6 separate regions of the Homo sapiens genome follow, and all the other regions are linked to region 5. Evidence: fine-mapped expression QTL. A gene starts in region 5. Each other region holds a variant in brackets. All regions are shown on one strand. Distances are between the middles of the regions.

The links.
Region 1: its variant is fine-mapped to the expression of PLXND1 in monocytes after R848 (Quach 2016, PIP 0.95).
Region 2: its variant is fine-mapped to the expression of PLXND1 in whole blood (TOPMed, PIP above 0.99).
Region 3: its variant is fine-mapped to the expression of PLXND1 in whole blood (TOPMed, PIP 0.91).
Region 4: its variant is fine-mapped to the expression of PLXND1 in whole blood (INTERVAL, PIP 0.99).
Region 6: its variant is fine-mapped to the expression of PLXND1 in whole blood (TOPMed, PIP above 0.99). The same link has a PIP of 0.9 or more in blood mononuclear cells.

Annotation. Positions count from the first base shown.
Region 1 is chr3:130,371,755-130,376,825 of GRCh38, reverse strand. COL6A5 (collagen type VI alpha 5 chain) reads right to left here. Exons shown (of 41, transcript NM_001278298.2): 2 at 3,121-3,215; 3 at 1-589. The coding sequence starts at 3,187. Among named protein-coding and RNA genes, the nearest start is that of COL6A5, 29 kb to the right of the region's middle. The variant G/TG (reference allele first, on the strand shown) is at 3,024.
Region 2 is chr3:129,449,043-129,454,113 of GRCh38, reverse strand. It overlaps IFT122 (intraflagellar transport 122), which reads right to left. Exons shown (of 30, transcript NM_052989.3): 2 at 4,177-4,243; 3 at 2,116-2,200. Among named protein-coding and RNA genes, the nearest start is that of IFT122, 11 kb to the right of the region's middle. RefSeq lists an enhancer at 4,012-4,728. The variant G/A (reference allele first, on the strand shown) is at 2,652.
Region 3 is chr3:129,374,187-129,379,257 of GRCh38, reverse strand. No RefSeq gene overlaps it. Among named protein-coding and RNA genes, the nearest start is that of SNORA7B, 21 kb to the left of the region's middle. The variant T/C (reference allele first, on the strand shown) is at 3,165.
Region 4 is chr3:129,581,870-129,586,940 of GRCh38, reverse strand. It overlaps PLXND1 (plexin D1), which reads left to right. Exons shown (of 36, transcript NM_015103.3): 3 at 222-353; 4 at 669-769; 5 at 860-989; 6 at 2,379-2,556; 7 at 2,708-2,816; 8 at 3,272-3,374. Among named protein-coding and RNA genes, the nearest start is that of PLXND1, 22 kb to the left of the region's middle. The variant A/C (reference allele first, on the strand shown) is at 2,348.
Region 5 is chr3:129,604,493-129,609,563 of GRCh38, reverse strand. It overlaps PLXND1 (plexin D1), which reads left to right and starts at 2,888. Exons shown (of 36, transcript NM_015103.3): 1 at 2,888-4,235. The coding sequence starts at 2,925. RefSeq lists enhancers at 676-1,666, 1,667-2,659, 3,652-4,644 and silencers at 2,560-2,719, 2,870-2,929.
Region 6 is chr3:129,565,900-129,570,970 of GRCh38, reverse strand. PLXND1 (plexin D1) reads left to right here. Exons shown (of 36, transcript NM_015103.3): 19 at 36-185; 20 at 1,014-1,128; 21 at 3,166-3,273; 22 at 3,367-3,479; 23 at 4,340-4,444; 24 at 4,954-5,071. Among named protein-coding and RNA genes, the nearest start is that of H1-8, 25 kb to the right of the region's middle. The variant T/C (reference allele first, on the strand shown) is at 2,810.

The DNA of each region.
Region 1 (5,071 bases), 770 kb before region 5:
GCATCGACGGCTCCCTCCTTATACTTGGTTACATCCTTGATGATCTGTGTCATGTTTTGGGAAAATGTGCTGAGGTCTCTGATTGTCCGAAGGTTGAAATGGAAATGGGATGTGGCCATGGCCTTCAGATTTTCCTCAGAAGCTTTCTGCACCCCCACGGAGATAATTTTCACCCCGTCTTTCTGCAGGGCTTTCGAAGCCTCTTCCACTTCATCCTCAGACTCAGCCGAAGCCAGGACCACCAAAATTGGGGGAAACTGTTTCCTGTCTCTCCCATTTATGGGTGCAGAGAAGTAGGTCCTATGAGCCTCCTGAAGAGCCTTTCCTATCTGCAGGGACCCGCCAATGAACTGAAAGTTCTTCTTGAGGTGGTTCAGCATGGGGCTTCTGCCTTTGAAGGTGCTCAGATGGAATTCACTGTGAAACTCGTCGCTGTACTGGGCCAGGGCTACACGGTATTTGTTGGCCTCTATGGGGAGACTGTTGATCATTTTGTTGATGAACGTTTTCACGAATGGGAATGACTTAGGTCCCAGGTGATCGGAGCTGTCCACCAGAAACACGACATCTGCATACACAGGGCCTGGCCCTATCAAAATAAAATAACAAGCAAAAACAAAGTTATCATTCAACCTTTGTATTTTAGACCACAATACTTATTTAAGACTATGTGCTGGTGTTAAGTGTATATCAGAATCCCAAGAAAAGTGTCTTCTGGAGGTCAAACAGAAGAAAATATAATTGCCTTTGCTAAAATGTCAAACAAAAGGGCTTTAGTAAAGTTAGCCAACAGATATACAAGAGACAATAAACTTCTTTTCTTTTTTAGTTCTGGAACCCTAAACTCTGATATTGTACCAACTCAGAAAGTCCCTGACTGGACTGGTTTTGCTGTGTCCCTACCCAAATCTCATCTTGAATTATAGCTCCCATAATCCCCATGTGTCATGGGAGGGACCCAATAGGAGGTAATTGAATCATGGAGGTGCTTACTCCCATGCTGTTCTTGTGACAGTGAGAGTCTCATGAGTTCTCATGGCTTTTCCCCTTTTGCTTGGCACTTCTCTCTACTGCTACCATGTGAAGAAGGACATGTTTGCTTCCACTTCTGCCATGATTGTAATTTTGCTGGGGCCTCCCCAGCCATGAGGAACTGAGTCAATTAAACCTCTTTCCTTTGTAAATTACCTAGTCTTGGGTATTTCTTCATAGCAGTGTAAGAATGGGCCAAAGTTGTTTGAGAACTAACAGCAATTTTTGAAAACGTTATAGAGTAAGCAATTGTCTCAGGTGGGAGAACAGAGTCTAAGATGGGGATTTCAGATGAAAGTGCTTGATTGAGGGCGCGCAATGTAAGAGAAACAGGATAGGACAGGGAACAAGCAGAGAAGGGCATGTCATCCGGTAAGGTCTAGCTTTGACCTGCTCTGCAAGGGGCTCTGGAGCCTAAATTACAGCAGAGCTGTCCCTCTTTGAGGCAAGAGGGCCAGTTTTTTGTGCTACCCTATTAGTCAGTCATTGGCTGCAGACCATCCCCAGAAGTTGGAGAGAAGGAGCAGAAGGTTGTAGGCAGAACCTCTTGGTTAAGTGGGAAAACTGAGAACAGTTCCCCTGAGAAAATGGGGCACAGCCATGAGCTGTTGCCAGCAATATTCACAGTAGCTGGGAGGTGGGTGCATCAGCCAGATAAGAAGAGTCTGGTAAGGGAGGTGCCAATAGTATCTACCTTAGCAGTCATGGTCAGCCGTGCTGCTCCTGAAATTAGTAATGTGCTAGTAAATGTCTAACAACTGGCTCTTTCAAGGTAACTCAGAAATGCATCAGGAAATCTTAGAGTAACACAGTGACAATGCACAGTTTAAAATACTTCTTTGAATGATGTTTTTAGTAATTACAAGAGAGTATAAAAACTTACTTTTCATGCATGCTCTCTCGCTTTTCCTATACAGACAGGCACACAGACACGGACATACACACACTCACACAGTCGTGTGCTTCACAACGACATAATGACATTTCAGTCAACAACAGACTGCATATATGACAGTGGCCTCATACAGTTAAAATTAAGCTGGCTGGTCATGGTGGCTCACACTGTAATCCCAGCACTTTGGAAGGCCAAGGTGGTAGGATCACTTGAGCCCAGGAGATTGAGACCAGCCTGTGCAAGATGATGAAACCCTGTCTCTACAAAAAATATAAAAATTAGCCAGGTGTGGGGGCATGCACTTGTAGTCCCAGCTATTTGGGAGGCTGAGGCAGAAGGATTGCTTGAGCCGAGGGAGCAGAGGTTGTGGTGAGCCGAGACTGCATCACTCCACTCTGGCTTGAGTGACAGAGTGAGACTCTGTCTCAAAAAAATACGATTATAATAGAGCTGAAAAATTCTTATCACCTAATGACATCATAGCTGTCATAATGTGGTAGTGCAAGGTATTGCCTTTTCTGTGTTTAGATGTGTTTAGATATATAACTCCTTACCATTGTATTATACTTGCCTACAATATTCAGCATAGTAACATGCAGTACAGGTTTTTAGCCTATGAGCAATAGGTTGTATCATATGCCCTAGGTGTGTAGTAGGCTACACCATCTAGGTATAAGTATACTCTATGATGTTTACACAATGACAAAATCACCTAATGATGCATTTCTCAGGAAGTACACCCATTGTTAAGTGACGTATGACTGTGTGTGTGTGTTTGTGTGTAAATATATATTTCATGCTTGTAAAAGGAAAGGAAGGCAATGGTTTTAGTCACGAAAATACTTAGAATTTGTTTTCTGTGTCGGGTTCCTTTTCTTTCATTTATGAGATCAAGATTCAAATGGATCTATAAACAAATGGACTGACTCAATCCATGGAGACATGTAATATTGAGATTGAAGCAAATTAATGGATAATTAAAGTTTTTCTAGCCAGGTGCAACATAACTCCTGACTTTTGCTCATGGCTTTGTGCTGTCTTTCACAAGTTAAGTTTGTTTGATGTTGTATAACAATTACTAAATGCTGCATACTTT[G/TG]ATTTTTAGTAAATAAATTATTTCTTGCTGTTTATTAAAGTTTACTGAGATGTAAAAATATTTCCTAAATAATAATAAACGTAAAATATACTGATACCTGGGCTCTGGTCTGCCAATGTTTCAGTCCAAATGATTAGGACAAATATAATTAGCAAGATCTTCATTTTGTTAGTGAAGATTTTTACTTTTGTTCTGCAAAAGAAAATTATTTACATTATGAAAAATTTTATTTTATACCATTAAGTAACTGTCAGGATAGTTGTATTAGGGCATGGTACCTGTAAACAAGTATTTGTCAAGCAGTGCCAAGTGTGTTTATAAAATTCATCAAGCATTTGGAGTATTTGTTGAAAATATTAATGCTAATGTTTGCTGAGCCCTGGCCAAGGCTCAAACACCTTTCTCAGTGCTTGACAAGTGTCATCTAATTTAATCCTCACAACAATCTTATAGGGAGGTACAATTACTACACTTATGTGACAGAAAAGGAAACTGAAGCACCAAATGGCTTGGTAAGAGGTAGATCGATCCACAGTACTAACCCAGACGAAGCAATTGCATCACCTAACCTCTTAACCACTGTGTCATAAGCTTTATACAAAATTACTGTCCTCGCAAAATTTATGTAGTCACTATTCTCTACCCTTTATTGTTATGCCACTATCGTATATGTTTATAATTTGGCTTAAAAAGCCAACAGCTACACGTCTCTTCCTTCACTAAGCCTTTGTGAAAACTGCTTCCTCACTTACAGTTATGCTCAATTTCACAAACTACCTTAGGTTTGGTTTTTCCACATAGTTCACAATCAATCAGAATGCTTCATGGGAAATTAAAATCTCAGGAATTTAACCAAATCAGAGTTTGTTCTTTATAAGAATAGAAATAGATTTAAATGGCCGATACTCAAAAAATAGATCTCCCTTAAAACAGATACCAAAGGTGTAAGGGCTGATTTTTAGAGTCCTTTTGAAATTGTTACTCATTCAGGAAGATTGATAGAATCATTGGAAGCTGGATGTGGAGAAGACCCTATAAATCATTTAGATTAAGCCCCCAGTTCAGGGGAAACAACATTTTTATCACCCCAAAAAGAAACCCCAAACCCATAGCAGTCATTCCCCATTCCCCCACTCCCCTTCTATAGGTGCTGGCACTGATCTACTTGCTTTCTCTATGGATTTGCCTATTCTGGACATTTTGTATAAACAGAATCATACAATATGTGGCCTTTATGTTTGGCTTCTTTCATTTAGTATGTTTTCAAGGTTTATCCATGTTATGGTATGTATCAGTACTTAATTCTTTTTTATGGCTGAGTAATATTCCATTGTATGGATATAGATATATATATATATAATTTAAAACATTAATTGTCAGTTGATGAACATTTGGGTTGTTTCTACTTTGGGCTATTATAAATAATACTGCTATGAACACTTATGTACATGCTGGTGTGAATATATATTTTCATTTATCTGGACTAGGTACCTAGGAGTGAAATATTTGGTCTTATCATAACTCTATGTTTAACATTTTGAGAAACTGCAAAATTGTTTTCCAAAGTGGCCACACTATTTTACATTCTCAGCAGCAGTGTATAAAGGTCCCAACTTCTCCACATTGCCATCAACACTTATTTTCCATTTTGTTATTATAGCCATTCTAGTGGGTATAAATGGTTTTCATTTGCATTGCCCTAATGATGAATGATGTTATCTTTTCAGGTACTTAATGGCCATTTGTATCTCTTATTTGGTGAAACATCTATTTAAATGCTTTACCCATTTTTAACTGGGTTTTTTGTCTTTTATTGTTGTAATATAAAAATTCTTTATATACTCTAGATGCTAGAATACTACATGCTTAGCAGATATATGACTTGCTAATATACTCCTGCCATTCTGTGTGTTGTATTTTCACTTTTTAAATGTGTCCTTTGAGGCACAAGTGATTTTAAATTTGATGAAGTCCAATTTATATGAGGTTTTTTGTTTTATTTTGTTCCTAGTGCTTTTAGTGTCATATCTAAAACACCATTGCCTACA
Region 2 (5,071 bases), 160 kb after region 5:
GCTTCCATCTGATTATCAAAGAGGCCCATCAGCCAAAAGAAGTTAAAAACCTGGGACTGGAATAATCTCCAAGGTTCATTCAAGAATTATAACATTACAATTTTGTGACTTCTTGGCAGTGGCTACAGAATGTTATCTCAATGTTATCCATTTGATACATGAAGAAATCGTGACTCAGACTCAATAACCAGCTCAGACTCACAGAACTCTGGTGTTGGGTTGGGGTTGGAACTCACAACTGTCTCATTCCAAAGCCCATTTCTTCCCACTAATCCTATGCTGTGGGACAACATGGATTTATTTTAAAATAAATTTAAATCTCAGTTTCATGCACCACTTCCCTTCCTTCCCAACCCACCTGGTACCCCAACTGTAACAATCCTTCAACACCACCAGAACCTACTACTTCTCCATTGCTGTCCTCTCTCCCTTCATTATTCAGCCAACAATTCAAGGTTAATGTACATAATTATTTATCTGTATACACTTTCTGCTCCCTTGCCCTCCTACTTCATCTTCAAATGTGCTTGCAAAACCACCTCTGGTTAAATTCACCTCTTCTGCCTCTACAACTATGCAGCTCAAAATCGCTGGAGAAAAAGACACAATCACACCAACTAATCTCACTTTCAATTCATGATCACAATCTTCAAGAGGGCCCTTCATGTCACCGGGGATCTCACTACACCTCCTGGGTCCACTCGCTGTCCCATTCTCTGAGGCAGTGACTTTACACTTTTTCCCTTTCTCTTCAACTCTCTGAAACCTCCCTTCCCCATTGCCACTCTCAGTTGCTGTTGCTTCCTATTTCACTGAAGAAAAAAAAAATGGAATTGAGAATTTCCATTAGATTCCTACTACCACATTGTCCCCATCTGCTGGCCTCTGCAGTTCCTACTGTGCCCCTATCTAAAGCAAATACCCCGTCTATGCCCTAGATCCCATCTCCTCTTGCCTACTCAACAACTCTGTTCCAGCAGTTCTCTCCCCTCTCCGACATCATCAACTTTTCTCAAATTCAGCATGTATAAAACTGAATTTCTGATCTTCAACCATAACTTTTCTCTACCTGCAGTCTTTTCCATCTCAGTGGGGGGGGCAACTCCAACCTTTCAGTCCTCAGGTCAAAAACTTGACTCCTTTTTCTTCATAGCCCATATCCAATCTGTCAGACAATCCAGTTGGCTCCACCCTCCCATTATATCCAGAGTCTGATAATTTCTCATCACCTCCTCTGCCCCCACAGAGGTCTGAGCCACCATCACCCCCTGTCTGGATGATGCTTCCTCACACAGATGTCCTAACCCTCACCTCTTGCAGGTTGTTTCCAACTCAGCAACTAGAGGGATCCTTTTAAAATACAAATCAAATCAGATCCCTCCTCTGCTGAGGACCTTTCAGTAGTTCCATTTTGACTGAGAATCAAAATCTTTATGATCTGACCACCCCATGTCTGTTACCACTTTATCCTCATCCTCTACAATTCCCGATTCTCTTTGATCCAGCTCCTAGCAGCCACACCCACACCTGAGGGCCTCTGCAATGGCTCTTCCTCTGCAAAGAGCTCTCTTCCCCCCGATGCCCACTGGCACAATCTCATTGCCTCCTGACTTCAAAGTCTTTTTCCTCACCTGTCCTCATCTCAATGAGCCCACCCTCACTAGTCTAATTCAATACTGTACCCAACCCCCTGCCCTGCCCAGCACTCTCAATCCCCCTCATTCTGCTCTACTTTTTCTTCTTCCATAACAGTTATCACCTTCCAGCATACTACTTAATTTACCTTTTTACTATGTTTACTGTATGTCTTCCCTCATACTTTCTTCCTCCCTCACTTCTCACCACCACCCCATAAAACAGAAGCCCCATAAGGGGAGGGACCACCGTTTTTTTCTCTGAAGTAACTCAAGCACCTTGAACAGTGCCTGGAACATAGATGACCTCAATAAATACTTGCTAGATTGAATGACCAAACTGAAGTCTTAGCAACTTCACTGTCTTCTGAACTTGCAACTTGTACTCCAGCTTACTAGAAATAATTAAAAAGTGACTAAAGAGAAAAATGAACAATGATGAGGCTATTATAGAGAATGGAAACCCAGAGCAGCCTTTTACCATCCTTCGCATATGCCACACAGTACACAGTGTCTTTGTGTCCCTTGAGGGGCTGAAGTAAGGTGCCATCAGAGGTGTCATAAACCTGGCAAAAGAGACAAATACAGATTATCTATGTGATATCTATTAGTCAGAATTCCTGCAGGGTTGCTACTGCTATTTTTGTTTTTATAACAATACGTGTCAATATTCTAAATCTGTAGCCAATAAAAACTGCACTGCAAAACCAAAAACAACGTGACTTAAAGTTGGGTAACCAAGAAGTAGAGGACCCAGGTCTATGTACTATGTGACCAGGAATATACTACCAATCCTTGAGAACCAAAGGTTCAATTACTCACTCCATGGAAATTCTTTATACTCATCCTTACCTGAATTTGGATATATGATTGATCAAGGCAGGCCCTCCTAAATAAAACTAGCCCATAAAAAGAGCCAGCTACAACATGATTAAATTTTAATGCCAGCTCTGCACTAAATCAACATAATAGATGTTTCATATTTGCTACCAAGAATTTGAAAGTCACAGAACTCTG[G/A]GCTTTCAAGTAGGAGGGAATGTTATAAAACCCAACTGTAGGCCAGGCATGGTAGCTCACTCCTGTCATCCCAACACTCTGGGAGGCTGAAGTGGGAGGATTGCTTGAAACCAGGAGTTCAAGACCAGCTTGGGCAACTAAGTGAAACCCCATCTCTACAAAAAATAAAAATAAATAAAAATAAAAAAAAATAAAAATTAGGTGGACGAGGTGGTGTGTGTCCACAGTCCTAGCTACTCGGGAGGCTGAGGTGGGAAGATCCCTTAAGCCCAGGAGTTTGAGGCTGCAGTGATCTATGACTGCACTACTGCACACCAGCTTGGGCAACAGAGCACAACCCTGTCTCTAAGAAATAAAATAAAACCCAGCTGTAATATGGATTTAGGTATTTGATAGCCATGTGACATCTATCACTATGTGGAGAGTTTAAAAACACACCATCTGGCCGGGCGCGGTGGCTCACCTCTGTAATCCCAGCACTTTGGGAGGCCGAGGTGGGTGGATTACGAGGTCAGGAGATCGAGACCATCCTGGCTAACACGGAGAAACCCCGTCTCTACTAAAAATACAAAAAATTAGCTGAGCGTAGCGGCAGGCGCCTGTAGTCCCAGCTACTCAGGAGGCTGAGGCAGGAGAATGGTGTGAACCCGGGAGGTGGAGCTTGCAGTAAGCCGAGATCGCGTCACTGCACTCCAGCCTGGGCGACAGAGCCAGACTCTGTCTCCAAAAAAAAAAAAAAAAAAAAAAAACACACACACACACACCATCTGAGAAATCAAGCGGAAACTTTCTGAAATGGTTAGAGTATTGGAAAAGATAACCTATGTAGAAAAACTAATAGAGTTTGGATTGTTTACACTGGAGAGAAGTCTGCAGAACAATTTAACCATGTTTTAAGATTATGTAGTTAACCATACAAAGAATGGAGATTAATCAGTCTGCGTATCTAGAGACAACAGAGAAGAGGAAGTAGACTTAGACAGAAAGAGAGATCATACAAAGGTTTTTTGGTCAAACATAAGGGGTTCTCTGAAAATTACTTTTATATACCTGGATAGGTTCCAGAGGGAGCTTATGTTATTTGAAAATATGAAAAATAGGACAACATCCATATGGAACTGTTTAGATAGGCCAATGCCTAAAAGTTGGGGTCAGGCTATCTGACTTTTCATGGACACAGCACCGTCAGTCCTGTTGCTTGAATTTTTCTGGGGGACAAAATGTAAACTGACACCAGTCCAGTTTCAAAGGCATTGTGATTGTTTTCAACTCTTTCATGGGTGTCTCAAAGTAAAAAGGGAAAGATGAATGACCCCAAAGGTGGTATTGTTCACAGGTTCTTATCTGATAGTTTACTTGCCCGTTTTAAATAGCCCATTTCCATCCCTATTAAAAAGTAATAGGGAAGGTTTTTCCACCCTTGCCTTTTTAATCTCAAAAAAAAAAAAAAAGGGTCAAATTTCAGAGTACTCACAAGAGGGAGGTTAGGGAAGCACTTTAAGAGGAAACTAAGACAAAATCCTACCAGTAATCTGCTTCCGGCAGCCAAAATCAGTTGAGTTCCATCAGGCTTAAATGCGATGTCATTTATACTGAACAGAAGACAAGGGAAAAAGACAATTAGGAACCAAAATGATGAAGTCTGCTAATGGCCAGGAAAGTAAACTTTATTGCCATTAAGAAACACTGTGTGTGTACTGAGGAGAAAAAGAATAACTACGAATTGCATTTGTTGCAAATTCCATTCAACCGCCACACCACAGCAGCCCATTCAATCATGATCCACTCAGTAGTTAGCTCTTTGTCCTGATTTCCTCTTGTCCAGAAGCCAGACACAAGAAATTATTCAAAGGGTCAACTGTTGAGGGTATTAACTCTTCTAATAATATCATAAAGGCTAGACAACATGAGAGAATGTGTTAAGGGCCAGTAAATCCACAGATACTTACTGAGTCCCTCTTAGGTGCCAGGCACCAACAGATATGAACAGATCATAATCCCTCCCTCCCCTCAGGGAAATTACTATCCAGTGAGAAGGTGTGAAACAGACACTTTCACAAAGAACTACCATATGTCATCAATTCTAAAGCTTACATTTTTTTTTCACATTTTCTCACCTCTAAGGTTGTGTCTTATAATTGATGATGTTTCAGTGTAACTGGCAGCATTTTTTGCTTTCTTATTGATACACAAAACAATGGTATTTTATAATCAATGACCTATTAGATTGGATGAAATACAGAACAGTACTCTGATAAAGGCTTTAAGAGACACATGAAAACAGGATTCGAAGGAGGAAGACGCAGTGATACAGGAGCTAGAAAGAAATTATTTAGCCAGATAGTGAAGGTAAAAGAGTCTTCGGCAGAACTTCCCTTTTAATAAAAAGCAGCCCAAGAAATTATTTTTTTCTAACAAAG
Region 3 (5,071 bases), 230 kb after region 5:
GCCAATTTGTGCTGACTTCCCAAAGCTGGATCAAAAGGGAAACACCTGGGTCTGGAGGCAGGGGCCCTAAGGCCAGTTAATGCCAACTTCCTGAAGCTAAACCGAAAGGAAAAACCCAGCTCCCCATGCCTTAGTAGCAAAGGGTCAAAGGTTACTCTTTCTACAACCCTCCCCCTTCCACCATGGCTTAGACAAAAAGGGAGAGTGGCTTGGAGTGGCCACAGGCCAAGCAGGGACCATCCCTTCATCTGCATAGGGTGCCATTCACCTCAGTGTTTACTTAGCCACAGACCAAATCCTTCAACTATATAAGGGGTAACTGATAGGAACCTCAAAAGGAGTGCTTGAAACCCAGAAAACTTTGTAACTGGGCCCTTGAGCTGCTCGGGCCCAGTCCCACCCTGTGGCGTACCTTCTCTCTTTTATAAATCCCTGATTTTGGTACTTCGATCCTGTGTTTCATTCCTTTGTTACTTAGTGCATTTTGTCCAGTTTTTTGTTCAAAACACCAAGAACCTAGACAACTTACACCCAAGGCCCTCCTTCCAGTAACAGCAATAGAACACCGTATTTCAACATGATTCTGATATACCATTGATGGCAGTGGCTGCTCCAGATCACTGTGTTTTGGACAATGAAATGTAGCCAACTGTTCAACTGTAGCTCCCAGCTGCAGCAGGGAGACGTGGCTGGGGTTGCACACTCCATGAAGCCCTTCCAAGTTGGGGTGGGAGCTCCCCAGGTGCCACTGCAGCTGCCCAAACCATTGGGTTGCAGACCTGGGCCTCCCACTCCACAGAGCAGGCAGGAGCCCTGCCCTCCGGGGCAGGGCTGTAGCTGCCCAACTTGTGGCTGCAGGTCTGAGCCTCCCTGTGCTCTTGGGAGGCCAGGAGCAAGCAGGATCCCTGCCCTCCCAGGCACAGCTGTAGCTGCCTAAACCATGGCTGCAGACTCAGGCACCCCTGCACTCTTGAGGGCCAGGAAGCATCCCTTCCCCTTGCAGGCTCAGCAGTGCCTGCTCCCATTGCCTGGCTTCTCCCTGCTGTTGTTGCCCACTCCAATCTTGGAGGAATGTTGGGGCCAAGCTCAGGTGTCATGAAGGCAGCAGGAGGCAGACAGATTCCTGGATGGAAGGGGGCCGGTCCCCAGTGAGGCCCCACCTTCAGGCCAGGGAGGGTCTGAAGGCTGGGAACCAAGGCTGCCAGTCTCATGGACTGGACTGGGAACTTGTGGTGCCTTTTCCAGGCCCACCCAAGTACCAATCAGCATACACTTTTTCCCCTCTGAGGCCCATAAAAACCCCAGGTTCAGCCAGAGCTAAGCAGACTATGGGATGACCAGCTGCAGAGAAGAGCTACCCTTTCTGCTGAGAGCTTCACAGGCCTGCAGAGATGTTGGGACTACCAGCTTCAGAGAGGAGCAACCCACTCCAGGGCTTCCTCTCTGCTAGGAGTTCGGCAGATGTCAGGACGACCAGTAGAGAGTGGAGCTACCCTCTCCAGGGGCTCCAATCTACTGAGAGCTGCAGAGACAATGAGATGAACTGCCTGCAGAGAGGAGCCACCCTCCCAGGGCCTCCTCTCTGCTGAGAGCTGAACACTCCACAGGACCACCTGCCTACAGAGAGGAGCTACCCATTGTGGGTCTCCTTATGCCCATGATGGTTGGAACTAGTTTTTTTTCATGACAGCATCATGAAACAGTAGGCCCTTAAGGAAATCAAAGTATTTTACCCCAAAATATATTTTGTTGACATATTTTGAAATGGGCCTGCAAAGCTTTCTCTTGTGTGGGAAAATTTGCATTCTGTAGAGAATCTCCTTCTCTTACTAGGTCTTTTCTGGAGAGGCTGACACTTTTTAAGGTCAGACAAGAGACATTTGCCATCTATTCTCTCTGAAGTTTGCTACCTGAAGGCTTCATCTACATGAAAAGAACCTGGGCTTGGCTGGGCACTGTGGCTGACACCTGTAGTCCCAGCACTTTGGGAGGCCGAGGTGGGTGGATCATGAGGTCAGGAGATTGACACTATCCTGGCTAACATGGTGAAACCCCATCTCTACTAAAAATATAAAAAATTAGCTGAGCATGGTGGTGGGCACCTGTAGTCCCAGCTACTCAGGAGGCTGAGGCAGGAGAATGGCATGAACCCAGGAGGTGGAGCTTGCAGTGAGCTGAAATCACACCACTGCAGTCCAGCCTGGGCGACACAGTGAGACTCCATCTCAAAAATAAAAATAATAATAATAATGTTATCATTAGGATTATCATTATTTGATTCATATTTTTACTACTCAACAAATGTTGAATGATAAACATATACATTAGGCTGGGAGTGGTGGCTCATGCCTGTAATCCCTGCACTTTGGGAGGCCGAGGCAGGTGGATCATCAGTTCAGGAGATTGAGACCATCCTGGCTAACACGGTGAAACCCCGTCTCTACTAAAAATACAAAAAATTAGCCAGGCGTGGTGGCAGGCGCCTGTAGTCCCAGCTACTCAGGAGGCTGAGGCAGGAGAATGGCATGAACCCTGGAGGCGGAGCTTGCAGTGAGCTAAGATCGCACCACTGCACTCCAGCCTGGGCAACAGAGCGAGACTCCGCCTGTAGTCCCAGCTACTTGGGAGGCTGAGGCAGGAGAATGGCATGAACCCTGGAGGCGGAGCTTGCAGTGAGCTAAGATCGCACCACTGCACTCCAGCCTGGGCAACAGAGCGAGACTCCGCCTGTAGTCCCAGCTACTTGGGAGGCTGAGGCAGGAGAATGGCGTGAACCCAGCAGGTGGAACTTGCAGTGAGCCGAGATTGTGCCACTGCACTCCAGCCTGGGCGACAGAGTGAGACTCCATCTCAAAAAACAAAAACAAAAAGAAACAAACAAACAAAAACCAAGCTGTGACCCAGCCACCTTGGGCACATGTTCTCAGGACCTCCTTAGGCTTTGTCAGGCCATGGCCCTTGACCTTAGCAAAAGAAACCTAAGGTGATGGAGACTTGTGTCAAATACTTTTTGGTTTATAGCCATTTACCCTCTGACAGCAAGACGTGGCTGCTCCCAAGAGCTTATCTTTTCCACTGTGCCATCCTTCTCACCTTCCCCTCCTTTAGCCGGGCAGCAGGCATGGGCTGGGGAACAGGTGACCTAGCTCAGCTACATCCTAGGC[T/C]TGTGACTTAGGGTAAATCCATTAACTTTTTTTTTTTTTTTTTTTTAGATGGAGTCTCACTCTGTTGCCGAGGCTGGAGTGCAGTGGCGTGATCTCAGCTCACTGCAACATCCACCTCACAGGTTCAAGCGATTCTTGTGCCTCAGCCTCCCAAGTAGCTGGGATTACAGGCATGCACCACCACGCCAGCTAATTTTTGTATTTTTAGTAGAGACAGCATTTCACTGTGTTGGCCAGGCTGGTCTCAAACTTCTGACGTCAAGTGATCAACCCACCTCGGCCTCCCAATGTGCTGGGATTACAGGTGTGAGCCACCGTGCCCAGCCTAAATCCATTAACTTCTGTTTGGATGCCCTGCCCAGCTCAGGCTACCATCGGCAAACAAGAGAGGTGCTCCAGAATTGAGGAAGCACTGGGCAAAATGCAGGCATGATCGTTAACCTCTGTAAGTGGACCCAGGTTCAGCTACATGAGCCAAACATGAAAGGTGAGGGCTGGTGGGAAGAAAAGCAGGTTTAATTGGAGAGCCGGCAAATGGAGATGTCAAACGAGCGTTCTAAAGGAGCATCTTACCTTTTCAAATTGACCATAGGGGTTTTAAAGCGAAACTTGGCATGGGAGATATGGGAATGGTGCAGGGCACAGAGTCTGTGTCTTTGTCCCCATGGCTGTCTCAGGTCATTGCTGGTCTGGAGGTCTGATTGGTGTTATTGTGACTTTGGCCCAATGGTGGTGGACTAATTGTTCATGACTCCCCCTAAGCGGGAGTATTCCACAGAGGCTCCATGCCTGGTTTGTTTCAAGATTCGCCTCTGGGGTTTCTTAAACAAGAGCATAATTAGATAAACATGCATTGCCGGAGAGGAGTGTCTACAGAGGGAAGGAATGAAGGGGTGAGAGTGGAGAGGTGAAAGAAAAACAAAGTAGGTGATTTTTAAAACTGAGGTCCCAGCAGCCAAACAACCACTGGCCTCGAGATAAGCAACATTAAAACCATTTACACTCCTCTAATGTTGACTGACTGACAACCGGCCCCATTCTACCAGCCACAGCTACGGCTTTAATTAAACAAGAGACTGATTTCAGTAACTTTCCCCTGATAAAAAGACCACCGAGCTTGCATTAGTTCTGGCCGGTCTACAAAAATCACACACTTGGATGCCTTTGTGTCCCGAAAAAACTTTTTGACATATAGGGCCTAATTGTAACACATTTAAATGGTCCCCACTCCAAACTGAACATGGGTCATATGTCACATGCGTATTTGTTCAATACACATGTCAGGACCACCTTCACGAGCATTCATAGCTCCTCCCAAAGCCTGTTAAATATGTATAATTAGCCAACCTGTCCTCAGATCCCCACTGGAGCTCTGGGTACAATTGACAGTGGGAAACATGGACTATAAATTTGATTGACCAGCCTGAACAAAAAAGTGAGAGCCCATCTCTACAAAAAAATCAAATTTGCCCTGGGTGGTTGCACACACCTGTAGTCCCAGCTACACGGAGGCTGGAGCAGGAGGATCACTTGAGCCCAGGAGGTCGATGCTGCAGTGAGCCACTTTCATGCCACTGCTCTTCAGCCTGGATGAAAGAGTGAGACCCGGTCTCAAAATGATAATAATAAATTTTAAAGAGACTGAATGTTGTGTGTACTTCCTGGATAACTCCAGAAACATATTCTCAGCCCTGCGAGACATACACAAGTAAACTAGTGCTATGTCTGATCCCACAATATCTAAATCAATGGCTTTTATCATGGTTTGTATCAGGCCCCTTCTGGTGGAAAAATTGCTCATGATTTTGGCCATGATTATAGGAACAGGCTTATTCTTCTGCTGTGGACTCTATTGCTGTTGTGTGCCATGCATGGGAATGCAGGACCAGTTCTCCCAGGGGCTTCTG
Region 4 (5,071 bases), 23 kb after region 5:
GAGACGAGCCCAGAAGGAGCTCCTGGTGGGGGCACAGCAGAGGCAGAAGCATCAAGGCCCGGCCCTGTGCCCTCCCCTGCACGCCCGTGACTTCCCACCCCTCCTGAAGGGTCCAAGACAGGATGGGGAGGCAGAGCCCCCAGACCCGGGCTCAGGTTGTCCCCTGGGTTTGGCCTCCCCTGCTATGGGCTCCAGCACCCTGATGCCCACTACCCCCACAGATCAACCTGAACGAGAGCATGCAGGTGGTGAGCAGGCGGGTGGTGACTGTGGCCTATGGGGAGCCCGTGCACCATGTCATGCAGTTTGACCCAGCAGACTCCGGTTACCTTTACCTGATGACGTCCCACCAGGTGAGGCCAGAGCCCCAGCCCAACGCCATCCCAGCACCAGCCGAGCCCTCTTGCTTGCCTGGCCTTTACACACGCTGTTCCTCTGCTGGGAGCACCCTCCTCCTCCATCTCCCTTATCTGCTAACTCCACCTTGTCCTGCGCCTCCCAACACCGACCTTGCCTCTGCAGGGAAGCCTTGTCTCCCATGTTCCCCCATTAGAGTGTTGACCCTCAGTTTCCCCAGCCTCTCATGGCCCGCACCATGCTGACCGTACCACCTCCCCAAGGGAGAGGCTGGCAGTCCCATTGAGCTGGGCCCCCACCTCTGCCCCCAGATGGCCAGGGTGAAGGTCGCCGCCTGCAACGTGCACTCCACCTGTGGGGACTGCGTGGGTGCGGCGGACGCCTACTGCGGCTGGTGTGCCCTGGAGACGCGGTGAGGCTGGACACCAGCAACAGCTGGACCAGGAGGGCTGTGGGGGTGGGAGGAGCTGACCTGGGTCCTGACCCTGCGGTGCCACCCCAGGTGCACCTTGCAGCAGGACTGCACCAATTCCAGCCAGCAGCATTTCTGGACCAGTGCCAGCGAGGGCCCCAGCCGCTGTCCTGCCATGACCGTCCTGCCTTCCGAGATCGATGTGCGCCAGGAGTACCCAGTGAGTCCTGGGGGAGGCAAGACCCAGCTCGGGACACAGGGGAGCCTCCCTTCACCCAGCACCCAGGCCCCGAGAGGTGGAGACTCCCACCCATGGTGCCCCAAGGACCTGAAGACAAATAATGAGAACAGTGACAATGACTGGGCTTTCCTGACCAACTAGTAAGTGCCAGGCACGTGCTCTGTGCTTGACGTCCACCTCCGTTAGGCCTTACACACCCTATGAAGCAGATGCTTTTGACATCCTCATTTTACAGATGGGGAAACTGAGGCACCAAGTGGTGAAACGACTTGCTGCAGGTCGCACAGCTAGGGAGTGGTAGAGCTGGAATCTAAACTCAAGAGGCGGGTTCTAGAGACCCAGGAGGGAGGGTACAAGTTGGAGGCTTGGAGGACAGTGAGTTCCACCCACCTTTTCCCAGAACAGGGGATGGAGGGAGGGACCACCAGGTGCCAGACTGAAATTTCTCCTTCTCAGAAACAGATAAACCTGCAATGCAGGGGGCTGGGTCTCCCCCGGCTTGTGCCAGGAGGGCTCTGGCAGGCAGCCTTGGCGGTGGGGGATTCTGGGCCCCGGCAAGGGGTGGGAGCCGAGGGTCAGACAGGCCTGGGGTTCATGCATCTGGCTCTCAGTGACTTCTCTGAGGATGAGGGTCCTCTTCTCTCACCCTGGGGGGCTCTGACAGCCCGGCTCTGGCCTGTAGCTGCTCAGCATCTGGGGCTCCTCTGCCCTGCCCTGCCGTTATCACACATCACAGAGTCCTTCCCTCATTCATTCAGTCATTTCATTTATTGGACAAATATTATGGAACACGTACTATGTGCCAAGCACAGTTCTGGACTCTGGGGACACATCAGTAATCAAGACAGACCCCTGGCCCCAGGCTCATGGGGGAGGAGAATAGGCAAGATAAAACCTGAAGGTGATGCTAAGTACTGTGGAGAAAATGAAAGCAGAACAGGGGTGGGGAGCGGGTTGTGGGTGCAGACATCTCAGGCCAGGTCAGGTAAGATATGCAGGAGGGGAGCCAGGGTGAGCATCTGGAAAGAGCGTCTGGGTGGAGGGAACTGCCAGTGCAAAGGCCCTGAGGTAGAAACAAGATCAGCTGTTTCGGAGAGTATTAGGGGATGGGGTCAGAGGTCACAGGGGCCAGATCATGCAGAGCCTTCTTGACCACTGTAAGATGATGTTTCATTTTGCAGCTGGGGAAACTGAGGCTCAGAGGGTCACATGTAGGGCATAGCCCTCTGGCCCTGAGTCCTGGCCACCACTACCCCTTCCCCCAGGGGACATTCAGGCAGTGCCAGACCTTGGGTTGGTGCACAGCCCTGGGGCAGGCTGTGAGGAGCATAGCCTGG[A/C]CCCCCAGAGCTGAGGGCTCCTTGCCCCCAGGGCATGATCCTGCAGATCTCGGGCAGCCTGCCCAGCCTCAGTGGCATGGAGATGGCCTGTGACTATGGGAACAACATCCGCACTGTGGCTCGGGTCCCAGGCCCTGCCTTTGGTCACCAGATTGCCTACTGCAACCTCCTGCCGAGGGACCAGTTTCCGCCCTTCCCCCCCAACCAGGGTAAGCACGCTGTGCTGTTGGCACAGCCCCAGAGGGGCAGAACGGTGGACTGTCAGGCATGGGGATGGCAGGGGGCCAGAGGTCACAGCTTCTGATGTTGGTGGCAATCCCCTGCCCCCATGTCCTCCCCTGGCTCCCCCATCCATTCCAGACCACGTGACTGTTGAGATGTCTGTGAGGGTCAATGGGCGGAACATCGTCAAGGCCAATTTCACCATCTACGACTGCAGCCGCACTGCACAAGTGTACCCCCACACAGCGTGAGTGGCTTGGGTGGCTTGCCTCCAGTTGGTGGAGGGAGGAACGCATCCCCGGGAAGGGTCTTTGCTTTCAGGGGGCCCTGAGAAGAAAAATCATAGCATCGTAGAGGTAGACAGGCCCTTCAGTTGTTCATTCACCAGCACATTTATTCATTCTACAATAAATGCATACTGCCTGATGCCTGGCCTCTGTGGACAGCCAGGTGGGACGGGGCAAAGTGCTTTGATTATACTCAGTTTAGTCTTCTAAAGGCCCTGTCTCTTTTAACTCCTATTTGTATACCTCTTGTTAGCAGGCAGCTCACTACCTTAAAGACCCAATCTTTCCCAGGCAGCCCCGATGATGAGAAAGACCTTTCCCTGTGCTGGGATCTGCCTTTTGGGTTCTAGTTCCTGGGACAGGGATGAGTTGAGGGGTGGGGAACCAGGAGTTGAGGGGCCTCCTTGTCTTCCAGCTGTACCAGCTGCCTGTCGGCACAGTGGCCCTGTTTCTGGTGCAGCCAGCAGCACTCCTGTGTTTCCAACCAGTCTCGGTGCGAGGCCTCACCAAACCCCACGGTAAGCCAGGCTAGGGGGCCCCTCCGCCTCTGCTGTTTCATTACCTTTTTTAAAAAATTCACATGTTGAGAATGTTTCAATGCCTTTGCATATTCCGCCTTAGCTTTGGCTTTGACAGCTATATGGGGCTCATCACATACCACGGTGCGTTTAACCCATGCCCTATAGTTGGACATACTAATTATTTCCTCTTTTTTGCATTTTGATATAGCCAGGGCACTATGCATATCCTTGATGATTCCCTGAAGACCGCTTCTTAGAAATGACCTGTTGGGCTGGTAGTGTGGCCATAGTTCTACACCTTGAGCTCAGCTGCCTTCCAGAAAGCCTGAGCCAGTTTATACCCCCACTGCAGTAGGAAGACCATTTCAACAACCCTAGGTGTTCAGGGCATTTGTCCTCAAGGCCTGTGGAGGTGATTCGCTTAAGGTCATCGACTCAGGCAGTACCAGACTTGGGCCTTAACCCAAGTCCCTCTGCCCCTGGAGCCCATATTCTCCCCTCCTGTGAAAATCAGGAACTGGGTGGAAAGGGCCCTGCCTGGGTTTCTGCACGAGCAGTGGCGTCCCAAGGGTGGGTGGTGCTGCAGCTGTCCCTGGACAGGGAGGATGGGCTGGCCTCAGAAACCACACGCTCCCAGGTCCTCATGTCAGTCCCTAGGACCCTGCAGTCTGACTCCATGCTTGTCAGGGGCCAGGCCTGCCCCAGCACTGCATGGTGGTTGGGTTTAATCAACTAAATGGGGTGGGAGCAAGAGGAGGAAATGTAAAAATGGATCAATCTAGGCTTTTTAGTGTAAAGATAAAGTAAAAATGGACATGCCACATACCTCGCCCCTGGTTGGTTTCTGAGACTTGTTCACTTTCCAGGTGGCCTCTCACCTTTGCCCAGGAAGCCTCTAAGGCCACCGCAGCCCGTGCCAGGATGGCCAAATGGGATGCCTGGGACCTTGGCTGGGGTGATAAGGCCTAGCCAGGTGGGATGTGCCAGGGTCCTGAGATCACAGCTCGTCCCCTCTCAGACCTGGCGCGTATCAGGGCTGTGGGTGGCTGGGGTAGGGCACCAGCCTTCCTGCAGCTCATCTCTCCAGGCAAAGGCTGGTCCTGCCCATATTCCAGATGGCACAACTGAGATAACCAGCATGGCACCTGGTGCCCTGGCTCCCTGCAGAAGGTCACTGGGGCCCCTTTCTGGGCACACATCCCGGGGAAGCAGCCCCAGCGCCCAGAGCCTCTGCAGCCCCAGCCTTTTTGCACTGAGCTCAGAGAATCTTCTCAGGAATCCCTGAAGCCCTGTCTACCCCGGCAGTTGCTAAGGAGGGGGCCCCATGGCCTCAGCCTGGAATCCCCTGCTCGCTCGCAGTGCGCAGCACCTCCCACCTGAGCCCCATAACTGCTTTGAAGAAGAGCCTGGCAGGGGCCATGCTTAATTCTATTCGAAGAGGGGCTTGGCAGCAGGGGGCTTCCAGCACTGGAGGAGAGCCCAGTGGAGTCGGTGCAGTGAAACCATACGGGAGCCCTGAGCTGCTCCTGGACCCCCAGATTCCACAGTTGGGACCCCACTAGGACTCCTGCTCCTGTCTGGGGACCCCATCTCAATCACGTCTCTTCCTTCCAGCTCCCAGCCCAGGGTTGTGTACACAGCAGGGGCTCGGTTATGGTGGTGGGAAGCATCACACTGGGCAGCAGCCTGCTTCT
Region 5 (5,071 bases):
CCATGAGCCATCCTGGCCTGATGGTGCTCCCAGCTAATGGGTAGAAGGGAGAAATCATAAGATGTGGAGCCAGATCTGGGTTTCAATCCTTACCTTGCTAATGCCCCTCAGTTTCCCCATCTGTGAAATGGGTTTGCTGACCACAGCCTAGTCAGCTGGCTGCAAGGATGGTGTAAGATCTGGTAGGGCAGTGCTGGGCACAGGATTCACTCTCACCGTCTGGTGGCTCTGCTAGCCACATTGGGGCTCAGGACAGGAGGTGGAGCCCTGGTCTTTAGTTGCAATGCCCCCCACCCCAACTCCTGGCTCTAACATGGGCTTCAGGGGTCATGGTTCACTGCCACAAGGCGGGGAGAAACTGGTGTTTGCTAAGAGCCTTGTTGTGCTTGACACCTGTTATGTTATATTCTCCATCTCACACCCTCCCAGGGGCAGGTGTTCTGCTACGATTGTCCTCATTTTACAGTTGAGGAAACTGAGGCTCAGAGAGGGTGAGTGCCTTGCACAAGACCACACAGCACTTCTCACCTCCAGTTGATGTGAGGATACTCAGACCCGAATACCCTTCACCTAGAGAGCTCCTAAACCCCACTGCTCAGCTTGGCAGGGAGCTTGTGTCCCAAGTGCCCAGGATCATCACCACAGGCTGGTCTAAGACAACACTGAGCATTATCCTCACGGCTCAGTGGGGGGAGCTGCAGGATGCAGCAAGATGAACCAGATGAGCGGGAGACAGGAAGGAAGAGAGGAGGGGCTGGAGAGGGAGTGGGGGTGAGGGATAGGGAGGGAGACAGAGAGAGAGACAGAGATAGAGACACAGAGAGACAGATGAAGAGTGGAAAGGGAAGGGGGCAAGACACTGAGAGAAGGAGAGACAAAGAGAGTGAACGGGAGGAGCAAGACAGATAGGAACAGAGATGGGTGGGGGCAGGAGAGAGAGAGATAAGACAGAGAGACCAGCGGATGGACTGGGGTGGGGGCACTGAGGATGTGAGTGAGGAGGAGGGGCATGGAGGCAGGCCCCATGCACCCCTGCTGGGCTCTGCAGTTGGCCCCCACGGGTGGCACGATGTGCGCCTTCTCCATCCAGAGAGGAAGACAGGGACACAGTCCCACGGGCAGTCCCCTGAGTGGCTCTTGGTGGGTGGATGGGCCTGGGAGGGGGCCTCCAATTTCCTGCAGCTCAACACTCCCGGCCATCAAAGCAGTGGCCAGACCAGGGCTGAGGGGTCTGGAACAAGGCGGGCAGGATGGCAGGAAGGCGAGGGTGTTGAGGGAAGTGGGGGGCGGCTGCAGGCCCAGCCTTTCCTGCCGGCCCCATGGTGCACAGACACCCCTGCCCTTCCTTCCTGGTTGGGTGGGAAAGAGGAAAATGAGGTCCCGCTACTCTCAGAGTGAGGCCCACCGGGCACCCTGTGGAAGCTGGGGGTCTGATGGGAGGCCCCGTTCTGAGAGGTCGGAGCTGAAGGGCTTTTGCTTTCAAACACTGTAGCTCTGCTCCTCATGAGCTGTGCATCTTGGGCCAGTCCCTTCCCCTCAGCCTTGGTTTCCATATCTGGAAGATGGGTTACCAATAGCGCTCGCCTCGGGGGAATCTGTGAGGAAAAAGAGAGCCCGTACATGGCAAGTGCTTGGCACAGTGTCTGGCACGGGCTAGCCCTGTGTGAGCACCCCCGCAAAACAGCCACGGCGCATGGTCCTCACAGGGCTGTGACCTTGGAACCAGGCTGCCTGCCCCTAACGCTGCTTTTGAGATCAAGAACCCTGCCCAGTGCCGGCTTTTGTGGGACTAATCTTCCACTAAGCCTGGGAGGATGTCAGGGAAAGTGCCTGGCGGGGGTGCCAGGGGTGGGGGTGCGGCTGGGTCTCCACAGGAGGCAACTGTGGGCTCCAGGACCAAGGCCTTGCTCTGGCTATCGGTTGTGGGCCACTGGCTGGAACTATTTCCTCTCTCCATGTTTTCCTCATTTATATATCTGACCCTGAGCACTGGTCCCTCTGGCCCTGCCACTTGTAAATCCCTTTTATGGGTCTGGGGTTTGGGGGACAGATTATGGGGTCTGGGGGGCCCGACTGGCCGGCACCGGGGGAGCGAAGGCCTGGACAGTGCCTGAGAAAGGTGGTGGAGGGAGGCTGAGTGTGGAGGGGAGACACAGGGTTCGGGAAGGCAGAGGGAGAAGGAAAGGGGAGCTCAGAGGGACCGAGAGAGGGACGGAGGGTCCGAGGGGGAGGCAGAGGGAGCCACGGAGAGAGGGAGCGAGCGTCAGGGACGGAAAAACGGAGCAGGAGAGAGAAGGAGACTAGAAAGGGCCGGGGGCGGGGCTGCCAGGGACTGGAGAGCGAAGCGGAGTCGGAGGGAGAAGGAGAAGCAGAGGCAGAACCCGGAGAAGCGCCACACGCGCGGAGTTTGGGGTGGGGACAGAGACGGAGAGACGCAGAGACCGAGAGACGCAGAGAGAGGGAGAGACGGGGTGGGGGAGAGGGCGGAAAAGAGAAAACAGGCGCGAGCGAGGCAGGCCAAGCGGCCAAGTGGGAGGAAAGAGCGAGGAGAGCGAGCGACGGCGGCGGCGGCTACGGGGAGGGACCCTGGGGCCGCGGGCGGGTCCTGGAGGGCGCGGGCGGCGGGACCCGCGGACGGCGGGGCGTGGCCCAGGGCGGCCAGGGGCAGGCGGGGGTCCCGGGGGCGGGCGGGGCCGGGGCGGGGAGTGAGGGCGTGTCCGCAGCGGAGCCGCCCCCGCCCCGCCCCCGGGCTGCGCGGCGAGGCTGACCCGGGCCCGGGCGCCGGGGTCGGGGGCGGCTGGCGCGGGCAGGAAGCGCATCGCGGCCCGGGCCCGCCCCCCGCCTCCCGCCGCCTCCGGGCTCCCGGCTCCCGGCCGCGCCTCGCCCCATGCACTCGCCGCGCCGCGCAGCCCGCGCACGCCCGGATGGCTCCTCGCGCCGCGGGCGGCGCACCCCTTAGCGCCCGGGCCGCCGCCGCCAGCCCCCCGCCGTTCCAGACGCCGCCGCGGTGCCCGGTGCCGCTGCTGTTGCTGCTGCTCCTGGGGGCGGCGCGGGCCGGCGCCCTGGAGATCCAGCGTCGGTTCCCCTCGCCCACGCCCACCAACAACTTCGCCCTGGACGGCGCGGCGGGGACCGTGTACCTGGCGGCCGTCAACCGCCTCTATCAGCTGTCGGGCGCCAACCTGAGCCTGGAGGCCGAGGCGGCCGTGGGCCCGGTGCCCGACAGCCCGCTGTGTCACGCTCCGCAGCTGCCGCAGGCCTCGTGCGAGCACCCGCGGCGCCTCACGGACAACTACAACAAGATCCTGCAGCTGGACCCCGGCCAGGGCCTGGTAGTCGTGTGCGGGTCCATCTACCAGGGCTTCTGCCAGCTGCGGCGCCGGGGCAACATCTCGGCCGTGGCCGTGCGCTTCCCGCCCGCCGCGCCGCCCGCCGAGCCCGTCACGGTGTTCCCCAGCATGCTGAACGTGGCGGCCAACCACCCGAACGCGTCCACCGTGGGGCTAGTTCTGCCTCCCGCCGCGGGCGCGGGGGGCAGCCGCCTGCTCGTGGGCGCCACGTACACCGGTTACGGCAGCTCCTTCTTCCCGCGCAACCGCAGCCTGGAGGACCACCGCTTCGAGAACACGCCCGAGATCGCCATCCGCTCCCTGGACACGCGCGGCGACCTGGCCAAGCTCTTCACCTTCGACCTCAACCCCTCCGACGACAACATCCTCAAGATCAAGCAGGGCGCCAAGGAGCAGCACAAGCTGGGCTTCGTGAGCGCCTTCCTGCACCCGTCCGACCCGCCGCCGGGTGCACAGTCCTACGCGTACCTGGCGCTCAACAGCGAGGCGCGCGCGGGCGACAAGGAGAGCCAGGCGCGGAGCCTGCTGGCGCGCATCTGCCTGCCCCACGGCGCCGGCGGCGACGCCAAGAAGCTCACCGAGTCCTACATCCAGTTGGGCTTGCAGTGCGCGGGCGGCGCGGGCCGCGGCGACCTCTACAGCCGCCTGGTGTCGGTCTTCCCAGCCCGGGAGCGGCTCTTTGCTGTCTTCGAGCGGCCCCAGGGGTCCCCCGCGGCCCGCGCTGCTCCGGCCGCACTCTGCGCCTTCCGCTTCGCCGACGTGCGAGCCGCCATCCGAGCTGCGCGCACCGCCTGCTTCGTGGAACCGGCGCCCGACGTGGTGGCGGTGCTCGACAGCGTGGTGCAGGGCACGGGACCGGCCTGTGAGCGCAAGCTCAACATCCAGGTACACCCGGGCGGTGGCGGCGGCGGCGGCGGCGGCGGCGGCGGGGGCGGGGGCGGGGGCGGGCGGGAACCGAGCGGGTCGTGAGCTGAGTGGGTCACAGGTGGGAGCGCGCAGAGATCCAGATGTACGTGGAACCCAGGTGTGCACGCGAGAATACAGGTGTCCCCCGAGGGGTACTACTGGCGCCTGTATGGCCCAGGTGGGCATGTGCAGGGACTCAAGTGAGTGCCGGCTCATGGGCGCGCATACCTAGGCGTACTGGGAGGGGTCCAAGTTGCCACAGGTACCCAGGTGCGCATAAAGCCCAGGTATGCACGTGAGGGTCACAGGTGCATGCTGAGGGCGCAGTAAGTGACTGCATGCCTGACCAAAGTTGTGTTCTGGGGCCACTGCGTGAGCCTGTCAGAGTTACCATTGCACGTTGGTGATGGGTGCATGGGTGTGGCAGGTGTGCAAGGAGGCACACAGGTGTGCACCAGGGCCCTGCAGATGTCTGCATGGACTTGTGTGCCAGCAAGCTGGGGCCTGAAGACGCACAGGGCAGACAGGTGTACTGCACAGACACTGGTACAACGGGACAGGGCTAGGTGTGCAGTGGGATGTGCGTGGCAGGGGACGCAGGTATTTGGGCATGAGTCGGTACTCTGAGGAGGCTGCATGGTTGGCAAACAGGTGTGTGCCTGAGGCCAACTTTTATTCACCTATTCTGCAAATATTTCCTGAGCACCTAGTATGTACCAGGTGTGGGAGTCTGGGGTAAACAATAGCACTTGTGGAGTGCCAGCTAGGGGCATCACATGTCACAATTCCCAGTTCTCAGAACAACCCTCTCAGGT
Region 6 (5,071 bases), 39 kb after region 5:
TTCCCCATGAGCATCCTCCCCCTTTGCACCCACAGAAGGAGCAGGACAGCCTGGGGCTCCAGAGTCACGAGTACCGGGTCAAGATAGGCCAAGTAAGCTGCGACATCCAGATTGTCTCTGACAGAATCATCCACTGCTCGGTCAACGAGTCCCTGGGCGCGGCCGTGGGGCAGCTGCCCATCACAGTGAGTGGATGGGGCGCCGGAGCAGGGCAGACCTGGCCCCACCCCTGGCCCATCTGCCAAGCATCTGCCCCTCACCCAGCACCTGAATTCACTGAGCGTTTTCACGCTCAACAGCTCAGTCCAGCAAAGCAGAGCTTTACATCCCCACTTGACATATGAGGAAACTGAGGCCCAAGAACTTAGTGACTTGCTTGAGGTCAGTGATGGGCCCCATCTGGACCTGGACCATCAGAAACCATAAGAAATTGTCCCTGTCCCCCTTGGCGTCTATCCTAGAGCCTGGGCTGCCAGGCACCATGTAGAGGCAGGGGAGCAGGAGGAGCAGAGAGGGGCCAGAACACTATCTCCTTGCATGTCTCCTGGGATGGGGAGCTCACTCTCTCCCAAGCAGCGTGTGCCACCCCAGGATGGCTCTGACTGGGAAAGCTTTCTTTCACCTGCACCTCAGTCCCAGTCCTGCACTCTGAGTCCTCATACCTCACCTACCCCCTGGTCCCAGGGCAGCCTTGCAGATACTTGGGGACAGCAGCCAGGCCCCGTGAACTGCTTCCTCTTGCTCACTCACTACTCCTCCCAGGCTGTAATGATAATCACAGCCCCCTGCATTGAGCCACCTCTGTGCCAGGCCCAGGACCAAGGGCTTGACAAGCCCTCATTTAGCCTTCCCAGTGTCCCCAGGAGGTGGACATTGTTATCTCTATGTTATCAGTGTGGCACCTGAGGCTCAGAGAGGTTAGGTAATTTACCCAGGGCCACACAGCAAGTGAGGAGCAGAACTAGAGTATAAGTCCAGGAAAGCTACAACCCCCTTCCCCAACCTCTGCACAGATCCAGGTAGGGAACTTCAACCAGACCATCGCCACACTGCAGCTGGGGGGCAGCGAGACGGCCATCATCGTGTCCATCGTCATCTGCAGCGTCCTGCTGCTGCTCTCCGTGGTGGGTAAGGAGCCCCACCCTCAGGACACCTTGGAGGGCAGGCTTGCCACCTTGCCCCAGCCCCTCTGAAGATTGGCAGATGGGAGAAGGCAGGATGGGATGGGGCACAGCTTGAACAAAGGCTTGGCCATGGGAACAGGTTAGGCACCCAGAGGTTGGGGGAGGTGTGCCCTGGCTCCAGCACCAATGGGTAGAAGATGTTAGGTGGCCAGGGGATATGCTAGGCCCACGCCCAGGTCCCTGAATCTCAAGCAGAGAAATTTGGAACCATGTTCTCCAGTCAATAGAGAGCTACTGAAGGTACTTAAGAGAGGATTACTCAGGAAAAATTAACCTACATGTCTGGTGGGCTATACCACTGTTAAAATAATGGTCAATAAAGTAATAGACTCGATGTAGCAGAGAAACTGGAGCCATCATACGCTACTAGAGGGAATACAAAAAAGCGCAGCTGCTTTGGAAAACATTTTGGAAGTTTCTTAGGATGTGAAACATAGAATTACCCTATGACCTATGACCCAGCAATTCCACCCCTAGCTATCTGCTCAAGAGAAATGAAAACGTAGCCACACAAAAACTTGTACACACGTTTATAGCAACATTATTTATAATAACCAGGAAGTCAAAACAACCCAAATGTCCATCAACCAATAAATGAATAAATGAAATATGATCTATTCATACAATGGAAAATTATTTATCCGTAAGAAGGAGTGGAGTACTGATCCATGCCACCATGGGCAGGCACCTTGACAATATTACACTAACCAAAAGAAGACTCACCAAAGGCATATTGTATGATGCCATTTATATGAAATGTTTAGAATAGGGAAATTCATAGAGACAGAAAGCTGAATGGTGATTGCCAGGGACTAGGGAGAACACGAATGGGGAGTGACTGCTGCATGGGTATGGGTCTTCTTGGGGCAGCAAAAATGCTCTAAAATTAGTGGTGATGGTTGCACAACTCTGTGAATATACTAGAAACCATTGAATTAGGCCAGGCTCAGTGGCTTATGCCTGTAGTCCCAGCACTTTGGGAGGCCAAGGTGGGTGGCTCACTTGAGCCCAGGAGTTCAAGACCAGCTTGGGCAACATGGCAAAACTTTATCTCTACAAAAAATACAAAAATTACCTGGGCATGGTGGCATGAGTCTGTAGTCCCAGCTACTCAGGAGGCTGAGGTGGGAGGATCACCTGAGCCTGGGAGGTGGAGGCTGCAGTGAGATGTGATCGCGCCACTGTACTTCAGCCTGGGTGCCAGAGTAAGACTGTCTCAAAAGAAAAAAAGAAAGAAAAGAAACCATTGAAGTATACACTTTAAATCACTGGATTATATGGTATGTACGTTATTTCACAATAAAGCTGTTTTATTTTTAAAGTGAGTATATTCAATGCAGAAAATTTTTGGAAAAACTGAAAGATGATAAAAGGAAAAAATACCCATCATTAATACCCTGTGTATTTTTGTATCTTCCCTCCCAGTCTCTTTTCTGAAAATACTATATATTAATAGATATTTTAATACATTATGTATATATTCCTCCCCACCCCAGGAAAGGTTATAATGTAATATTGCTTTGTAATCTGCTTTTAAAAGTTTCTTAATTTACAAGTAACACCTGGTCATTGTAGAAGGAATAGAAAATGCTCAAAAGCAGAAAGTAAACCGAAGTCACCCAGAA[T/C]CCTCCCACCCAGGAAAGCCACTGTTAACCACTATTTCACACACACGTATTCCTGTTTCTTTTTTTTTTTAACGGGGCTAGACAAATTCTAACAGAGCTGTAACACTACACACTTCTTTTTCTAAGGACGGGTCATCAGGCATTGCTTTGCTGGCCATTCCCCAAGCCCTCTGTCCACGGGAGAGCTCCCCGCAACTCCCCACCCCCCACCCCAACCCTGCCCAGGAGGGAGGACTGCAGGGCCTCCTCCCACACCCTGCCCAGAGGAGCTGGAGCGGAGGCCAGAATACAGCAGGCGCCAATAAAGGCTTTCCAAAGGGCACCAGAGGCCTGACCTGCCTCTCCACTGCCCGCAGCCCTGTTCGTCTTCTGTACCAAGAGCCGACGTGCTGAGCGTTACTGGCAGAAGACGCTGCTGCAGATGGAGGAGATGGAATCTCAGATCCGAGAGGAAATCCGCAAAGGTAGTGGGCGGGGACCCTGCAGGGCTGGGCCTCAACTTTCCCTCCTAGGGGATGGGTTCTCGGGCCGCTCACGGCTGTCCGTGTGTCCGCCAGGCTTCGCTGAGCTGCAGACAGACATGACAGATCTCACCAAGGAGCTGAACCGCAGCCAGGGCATCCCCTTCCTGGAGTATAAGCACTTCGTGACCCGCACCTTCTTCCCCAAGGTCAGCCCGAGCCTGAGCCTGCCCTGAACCTGTGCCAGCCACCTCAAGGCAACTCGACCTCTCTGAGCCCTGCCAGCCTATAGGGTCCCTTGAGCAGTGCCAAACCTGCACAGCTGTCCGCAGCCGTCCTGGCCACTTGCCCTGGCCTGCCACGGGGAGAAGGGTTGGAGGCAGATTCTCCACTGTCATTCTCTGCTCACTTGATGTTTAACAGTCCATATGGAAGCCAGCTGCAGCCCCGCTGTCCTGGCCAGCTGGGCCTGCCTCTCCCCTTTTCAAGGTGGGGCAGAAGCGGCCAGGGCTGTCCCAGGCCAGCCTCTCTCCTTCCTGTGCCTCTTCCCAGCCAGGCTTCCCTTGGTCTCTACACTCCCTCCTCCTGTCCACTGGACTCCTGCCCCATCCCTTCCATGCCTCTCATGCCTCCCCTTGCCCTTCCAGGGTCCACTACCCTCACTCTACCTCCTAGTGGTACCACCCTCTCTCCCCTGTCCACACCATTCCCCACACAGTGGCCAAAGCAAGCCCATGTTTGACTACATCATTTTTCACGAAACCCTCCAGTAGCTTTTCCCAGCCTCAGGCTAAAGCTCAGACTCCCAGCCTTTCTGCCTCAGTTTCCCCCATTGCACATGGAGCTGCTTTTGCTTCCCCTTAAGTCTTGTGCTGTCTTGTGTGGCCACACCCCTGGAATTCCACAGCCCCCAGGCTTGGCCCACTGCCTCTTAGTCCTTTATGGGGAGCTAATTCCGTGCCAGTTTCCCCCAGCAGCCCAAGCCAGTGCCCCTTTCTGTGTGAGTGACCTTTCCATGCCAGCAGGGGGTGTCCAGCCCCGCTGAGATGCTGGGGGTCTGCCTCTGCAGTGTTCCTCCCTTTATGAAGAGCGTTACGTGCTGCCCTCCCAGACCCTCAACTCCCAGGGCAGCTCCCAGGCACAGGAAACCCACCCACTGCTGGGAGAGTGGAAGGTGAGTACCCCACGACCCACACACAGTGGGCTGCTTCAGGGCAACCCTGCTCCCCCCTGGGTCCCCTTTCCAGTTCATCTAATGCATTGATCCCTGTCATGCGGAGTTGGGAGGCATCTGCCATTGTAAGGTACTGAGCCCTCCATCCCAGGAGGCATTCAGGCAGCCATTCAGGGTATTATAAGTGCTGCCCCCGCAGGCCAGGTAGAGCAGACAGAGGATTGGGCCCCCCTGTACACCCCACTCAACCTGCTTAGAAAATGGAAGGTGAGAGTCCTCCACACTGGGATGCCAGGTTACCTCCAGGCACCCTTACCCTTCTCTGAGCCCCACTTTTCAATTCAACCAAGCTATTGTTCCCTGTCACAAAGGTTAGGAGGCATCCACCGTGGAAGGTAATGAGCTCCCCATCCCAGGAGGCATACAAGCAGCCGTCGTAAGCACTGGCTGTTAGGCTAGGCAGGGACACTGGGCCCCTCTGGACACCCCATCACCAGTTGCTTCCACAGATTCCTGAGAGCTGCCGGCCCAACATGGAAGAGGGAATTAGCTTGTTCTCCTCACTACTCAACAACAAGCACTTCCTCATCGTCTTTGTCCACGCGCTGGAGCAGCAGAAGGACTTTG